Homo sapiens: one gene and its partner. The main gene of each other region encodes a partner of the protein of the gene in region 2 in a complex. Each region holds a gene or a part of one and is shown on either strand. Other genes may lie near its edges.

The links. The genes of interacting proteins can lie anywhere in the genome.
Region 1: POLR2B (region 2) and GTF2A1 share a complex: the UniProt entries of both Homo sapiens proteins name them as parts of the TBP-based Pol II pre-initiation complex.

Annotation. Positions count from the first base shown.
Region 1 is NC_000014.9:81,214,360-81,217,959, reverse strand, and holds part of GTF2A1 (transcription initiation factor IIA subunit 1), read left to right. Parts: intron 1-1,445; coding exon 1,446-1,547; intron 1,548-3,600. UniProt on the Homo sapiens protein: TFIIA is a component of the transcription machinery of RNA polymerase II and plays an important role in transcriptional activation. TFIIA in a complex with TBP mediates transcriptional activity.
Region 2 is NC_000004.12:57,016,696-57,020,648, forward strand, and holds part of POLR2B (DNA-directed RNA polymerase II subunit RPB2), read left to right. Parts: intron 1-347; coding exon 348-546; intron 547-864; coding exon 865-1,033; intron 1,034-3,953. UniProt on the Homo sapiens protein: Catalytic core component of RNA polymerase II (Pol II), a DNA-dependent RNA polymerase which synthesizes mRNA precursors and many functional non-coding RNAs using the four ribonucleoside triphosphates as substrates.

The sequences.
Region 1 (3,600 bases), on a different chromosome or scaffold from region 2:
AATAAACTTCAAGAGGCGGATTTGGCAAAATAAAGCAGGTTAGTGAGTGAACAGTAAAGCAAGAACCCAGATATTTGAATTGGTTTTCTTGTAATGAGAAGGATTAAATAGTATTTAATGGTTGAGGTAAATTGTATTGACAAACTCATTTGTATTTGTTTGTTTTCTGAGACAGGGTCTGGGCCTGTCACCCAGGCTGGAGGGCAGTGGTGCAATCTTGGCTCACTGCACCCTCTCCCTCCTGGGCTCAAGCCATCCTCCCACCTCAGCCTCCCAAGCAGCTGGGACTACAGGCACGTGCCACCACTCCTGGCTAATTTTTTGTGGAGATTGGGTTTCACTATGTTACCCAGGCTGGTCTTGAACTCTTGAGCTCAAGCGATCCTCCCAAAATTGGTTTTATTTGATAGCGATTAACCTTAAGCAAGGTATGAAACAGAAGTAATGAGAAAACATCTAAAAAGCTTGTTAACCATAACCCTCTGATAATGGGGAGGATTTATAACCAGGCAACTCTAGTTTTGTCAAGGCAGCTCTAGTTTTGTCATCTGACATGACTTCCTTTTGTCTAACAGGTTAAAAATAGGATGTGGGGGAAAAAATAGGATGTGGATTGGGCTAATTGTTCTATCTCCCACTTTGTAGTTTTTAAAAAATATTTTATACTTTTTGAAAGTTCTTTCACATCTATTCTCATTTTACTCATTTTACCATTCAACCTTCTAGAAGCCAGCTTCTTTACTTCCCGCTCCTCCAAGTAGTATCAACGGTGCTAATTGTAATAATAATAGTAAACATTTAGAGGGTTCATGTTCATTATAATGTTTCATAGCATTACCTGGGCAGTAGTAGAGGAGAAATCCTGGGAAGGAAATCAGTATACCTTGTTCCTTGGGACCTTAAGACCTGCCATTGTGAGTGTATGAGTAGTTTAATGGTACAGCTTGAAAGTACAGACTGGGTCACACAACAGAAGTTAGGTGATTTTTAAACCTGAATGTTCATTAGGTTGCAGATTATTACCAGGCAGATGACTCCCGGACATAAGATTCTCCAAAGTCTAAGATACAGTGGTGAGGTAGTAAGACATACAACAGAGTTCAAACCAAGCATGGAATAGTAGAAGCCAGACATAAGCAACCCGTAAAGCTATTATTGAACATTACATTAGGTATTTTGACTACAACATAGGAAATTATAATTGGAAATTGTATGGACCTTGTAGTCTTAGGGGCCTTCTGTTTATGAACTGCATTAATCTTAAAATTTTTATTAAAGTGTGCAGTCATCAAATCCAGTTTATGGCAAATGATGGTGGTCGTATCTTTAAAGTCATATATAGATAGTTGGCAAAATGACTATTCGTTTTGAATTTGTGAAAACCTGTTATACATTATAAGCTGTGAAAAACTGTCTTTTTCAAGTCTTTTATTTTTCCTTTAAAGCCTAAATTATACAGATCTGTGATTGAAGATGTCATTAATGATGTGAGAGACATCTTTCTGGATGATGGAGTGGATGAACAAGTACTGATGGAACTAAAAACTGTGAGTTTGTCTTTTTTTTAAAATATTCCTACTTTTCCCCCACAAAACATTTTCTTTAGCCGGAGATGAATCTGTAATTTTTCTATAGGATGAACGTATAGTTGAGTGAAGTGTGCTGGTTTTAAATCCCAACTCTGCCATGCATTCTTCCTCTGACCTTAGGCAAGCTACATTTATATTTCAGTTTTCTTATACGTAAGATGGAAATTGGTAGTACTTACCTTATAGGTTTGTTTTGAGGATTAAATGGAATAACCATATAAAATCTTAGCACAATGCTTGATAGTAGCATTAGCAGTTATTATTGGATAGTTAACATTCTACATTTTATGGTCTAATTACTTGACATGTCTGGAAGAATTTTGTTGCTTTCTTTTTTCGTTTTTTATTTTTGAGACAGGGTCGGGCTCTGTCGCCCAGGCTGGAGTGCAGTGGCACAATCTGGACTTACTGCAACCTCTGCCTCCCAGACTCAAACCATCCTCCCACCCCTGGGACTACAGGCACATGCCAGCATGCCTGGCTAATTTTTGTATTTTTGGTAGAGATGGTTTTCACCATGTTGTCAAGGCTGCTTTCGAACTCCTGGCTGCAAGTGATCCTCCCGCCTCGGCCTCCCAAAGTGATAGGATTATGGGTGTGAGCCACAGCGCCCAGCCTTAATCTTATCTTTTTTTAATGGTCTTAATGTACCTGTATTCTAAAGTGTGTTTTAAGTTGTAGGGATTAAGTGCTTGATAAAAGAATTTTAGGTTCTTGAAGTAGACCCTTTATGTAGGCCGAATGTTTTGAATATATTTTACATTGAGAGCTGGTTTTCTGTATCTTGGATTCAAGTGGAAATATTTAGATTTTTTTTATTAGCAGTTGTGTTTTCCTTGCATTGTAATGACTCATGAAATTGTGGAATATTTTTGCCCTGTTGATTAGAATAGTGGTTCTCAAGGTATAGTTCATGGAGCCCTGGATTCTCCCCAAGGGTTCTTTCAGGGGGTCCACAAGGTTGACTAAATGCTTAAGTCTGGAAAATCATAGTTTGCCCGTCATTCTTTCAAGTAAAAGTTGTATTCTGTGAGAAAAGTGACCAGTTAAATTCACAATTCAAGTGCACAGGTGCTTTTCCTTGAGATAACTGTAAATAAGCAGCAGAAATGCTTTATGTATACTTCTCATTTCTGACAAACTGAATATTAAAAAGATGAGGACTCAATGTTGATATTAAGAAATTTGATTGTTTGATATTCCGTAATGAAGTGTGTTTACAGTTGAAAGATCCATATAATTCACTGAACTTGTATTTTCTGAATATCCAATGCATAATGTTGGAAAATTCATTCAAAATGCAAGATAAATTAATGGACTTTAAAAGTATGAAAAGTTCACAGTTATATGGTTTCATATTCTGCATTGTAACTAACTATTAAGAAACTGTCACTTAAAAGTACCTTTTCTTTTCCCAACTACTTAATTGTAGGAAGGCAGATTTTCTTTGTACACCTCCACCAAAACAAAGCAAAAACAGGGTCAGATACGAGAATCTAGCTATTTTCCTTTAAGTCATTTGTCATTCTCACTCAATTTTATTTACTAAAATATGGCTATTTTCAGAAAAATGTTATTTATGTTAACATATAATGGATCCATTATTTCTAAACAAATTAGTGAAAATTAAAAATTTGTTATAATTTCTATTAGTATAAATATAGGTGGATGTAATTCACATACAGAAAAGCTCTTTGAGGGTCTCAGTAATTTTTTTTTTTTTTTGAGACGGAGTTTCGCTCTGTCACCCAGGCTGGAGTGCAGTGGTGCTATCTTGGCTCACTGCAAGCTTTGCCTCCCTGGTTCATGCCATTCTCCTGCCTCAGCCTCCCAAGTAGCTGGGACTACAGGCGCCCGCCACGACGCCTGGCTAATTTTTTTGTATTTTTAGTAGAGATGGGGTTTCACCGTGTTAGCCAGGATGGTCTCGATCTCCTGACCTTGTGATCCCCCCACCTCGGCCTCCCAAAGTGCTGGGATTACAGACATGAGCCACCGCTCCCGGCCGGGT
Region 2 (3,953 bases):
GTTATGTATACTAATATAAAAATCATTCAAACAATATGTATGATAAATTTAAAAAATTGCCCTCCAATGTATACTCTCTTCTTCACAAGTATATACTGGTAACAGTTAGGTGTGTATTCTTCCAGTGCTTATTCTCCAGCAGCTTACCTATTTCACTTGTCAACAATCATGTAACTATGTTGGTCAGTTATATATAATATTAAACTATATATATATATAAATATATATGTATATTTAATATATAATATTAAACTTATTTAAATATAAATATAGGAATACTTTTAAGTAGGAGGAATAGTTAGTTAAAATACTTGAGGAAGTAGAAAATTGAGTGAATTCTTTTTTAGTTGGCAGGATCTTGTGGCCAGTGGGGTAGTGGAGTATATTGATACCCTGGAAGAAGAAACAGTGATGCTTGCAATGACTCCAGATGATTTACAGGAGAAAGAAGTAGCTTATTGTTCCACATATACACACTGTGAGATTCATCCCTCAATGATCCTTGGTGTCTGTGCATCTATTATTCCCTTTCCTGATCATAACCAGGTTGGTATCACTTTTTGTCTTCTGGTGTGAGGAATTGGGAGAAGTAATAAAAATTGAAAGTAACTCTGTAGTCTTATCTGGAGGGAAAAAGCCTTTTAATGAAAAGGCTATTAACTCCTACGGAATCAGTATTTGATATAATTGCTGTTGTGTTTCATGGTTAAGAGCCGTAATTGATTATTCCAAATGGTTATTACTTACTGTTTTTGAAAAAAATCAGGAGTTTTACCAATCATATTTCTTTTGATTTATTGTCAGAGTCTTTTCCATTAGTGATAGTAACTTTTTGTTGTTTCTGCTTTTCATTTTTACGTTTAGTCCCCTAGAAACACATACCAGTCTGCTATGGGTAAGCAGGCTATGGGAGTTTACATCACCAACTTCCATGTTCGCATGGACACATTGGCCCATGTTCTCTATTATCCTCAAAAGCCACTTGTGACTACACGGTCTATGGAATATCTACGATTTAGAGAGCTGCCAGCAGGTATGGTCAGTTTTGCTCTACGTTATTTAAGATCCTTCTGTGCTTAAGGCACTTTTCTGGGTGCTTGGGAGGATTAAAAAATAAATATGACATAGTGCCTGTTCTCACGGAATTTATAATATGGTGGGAAACATGAACATAATAAAAAGGTAGGTATGTGGAAAGTGTTTTGGTGGAGGTACAAAGTCCTTTGGAAGCACAGACTGATGGAAGCAATTAATTCCTGTTGGAAGTCTAGATCCAGTTTCATGGAGAAGGTGGCATTTTAGATTGGAGCAAAATTGATGAAGGGGTATTTGCATTTGAGAGGTGGTTTAAGCAAGGGCCCAGATGGACGAAGACATGCAAAATGTACGGTACAGTTAGTCATGTCAGCTTAGTGGGAGTGGAGTGTAAATATATGGAAGTGAAAGCTTGGTCTCAGTGTGGAGAGAGCTTGAACAGGTTGAATTTTATTTTGAAAATGGAGACCCATCCAACCTTTTGGATCAGGGAAGTAATACAATTAGAAATTTGTTTTAGGAATACCATTCTGACAGCGGCATAAAGAGTAGATTACAATCAGGTACTGTATTAACAGGGAGCTAATTTAGGGGTTTTTGCAGTAGTATAAATGTGAAATGGCAAGGTCCTAAAGAAATGAAAAAGAATGATGGGTAAGATACCTTTTGAAATACACTTGATAGGACTTGATGACTGGTTGAGTGTGGAGCAATGAAGAGAGGAATTGGAAATACTGTTGGTGTTTGTGGCTTGGGTGATTAAAGAGAGGTGCTTTGAATAGGTTGGGGGAAAAATAAGATTGGGAACATGTTAGAAGGGGAAAGAGGTTTTAGAGGTAAGACAATAATTTTGTTTTGGATATGTTGATTTAGTGTCTTAGTGTCAGAACACTAAGACGTGAACTTCCAACAGTGAGTTGCAAACATGATTTGAAAGACGGTCAAGTCTAGAGATGTAAAATTTTTAATTTATTAATGATAATTATAGATTACTATGAAATTGCCTAAGGAGAATTTAGAATGAGAAAAAGGCCAGAGGCAGACAATTTTAGACACCAGGAAGAGAAATTAAGAGAGAAGATTTGAGAAGTAGCTGATAAGGAGGGGAATTCCAGGTTTGTAGGAGATTCTCAGGGAGACTGGATGGTGGGTAAAATGGTGAAGAGAAATCTGAAGGGTATGAGTGTTGACTATTAAAGGAGACAGTAGAGTTCTTTGGCACTGTTATCTTTTGTATTAACAGACTTTTGGCTTTGAATGTGGGTAACATTTGTTATTTGTTAGTAAAGTTTATCTTTAGTGTATTGTAATGGGGCTCTACCATTTTGATAGCAAATTCTCATAGGTTAAAATTACTTATTTTCAAAATCCTCCACAAGGGGTTCCTCTTGTCTAGAAAAGCAAAATCTGTTAGGTTGTCTACACAGTATGCATGTATCTTTGGGCTGTGCTTGCAGTGCTGTGTTTTCTCCAACATTTAGATAATACAGTTTCTTTATGGCTAGAGAGGAAAATAAATATACAGAAGGACTAGGTTTGAAAGCAAATGTTCCTTTGGTACTGGTGTGAAGTGGAGAGTCATGGCTGGCAGGGACTGCAGTTCTGTTATTCCTGACTTCATCATGGCATCTTTATTTTGAAATTCTTTTTTTTTTTGTAGAGATAGGGTCTACTTTGTTGCCCAGGCTGGTCTCAAACTTCTGGGCTCAAGTGATTTTCCCACCTCAGCCTCCCAAAGTGCCGGGATTACAGATGTAAGCCACTACGGCCAGCCCATCGTACCATTTTTAAAAAAACTTTTAACATTTTACCACATTTGCTCTATTATTCTCTCCCTTTTTATTTCTCCTCCTGAACCACATGAGAGTAAGTTGCAGGCATGAAGCCATATCATTCTTTAATTCTTCAGTATGTGTTTCCTAAGAACAAGGACATTCTCTGCAGTGTAGCCATCAAAATCAGGGTAACATTGATATCCATATAGTCAGCAGTCCTCAATTCAAATTTTGCCAGTTGTCCTAATGATGTCTTTTTTTTTTTTTTTTTTTTTTGAGAAAGCAACTGTTATTGTATTCAAACCTAACGATGTCTTTAATGGGTCTAGGAGCTAATCCAGGATTGTGCATTGCATTTAATTGCATGGTTCTTTAGTTTCCTTAATCTAGAACAGTTTCTCAGTCTTTCCTTGTCTTTCATGACCTTGACATTTGTGAAGAGTTCAGGAAAGTTATTTTTGCATTGTGTCTCAATTTAGGTTTGACTATTGTTTCCTCATGATGATATCCAGGTTATGAATATCAAGTTATTTTATTTTATTTTTTTGAGACGGATTCTCGCTCTGCCACCAGGCTGGAGTGCAGTGGCACGATCTTGGTTCGCTGCAACCTCTGCCTCCTGGGTTTAAGCGATTCTTCTGTCTCAGCCTCCTGAGTAGCTGGGACTGCAGGCGCGTGCCACCACGCCCAGCTAGTTTTTGTATTTTTATTAGAGGTGGGGTTTCACCATGTTGGCCAGGATGGTCTCAATCGCTTGACCTTGTGATCCACCTGCCTCGGCCTCCCAAAGTGCTGGGATTACAGGCGTGAGCCACCATGCCCGACCTAAATATCAAGTTATTTTATGGGCTCATCAAACAAAGTGTTTTGGCAGCAGCAACTAAGAATTTCATTGTGGTGGGAAAGATATGATATTTTCTTGGTGGCAGAAGGAGAGGGGAATGGGGTAGTATCAGTTTCAAACCTAAAAGCTGGGGCTTGAGTCTATTGCTTATTAATTTTGGGATCATGGGTAGATTATTAATTCACTCCTCTGATTCATGAGAATAATAATGCTTATCTTGTTTATGGCACAGAGTTGCTGTGAGGATCAGGAAACTTGGTTTGGGGAGGCACTTCCTAAGTAGGAGGTGACTCATGTGT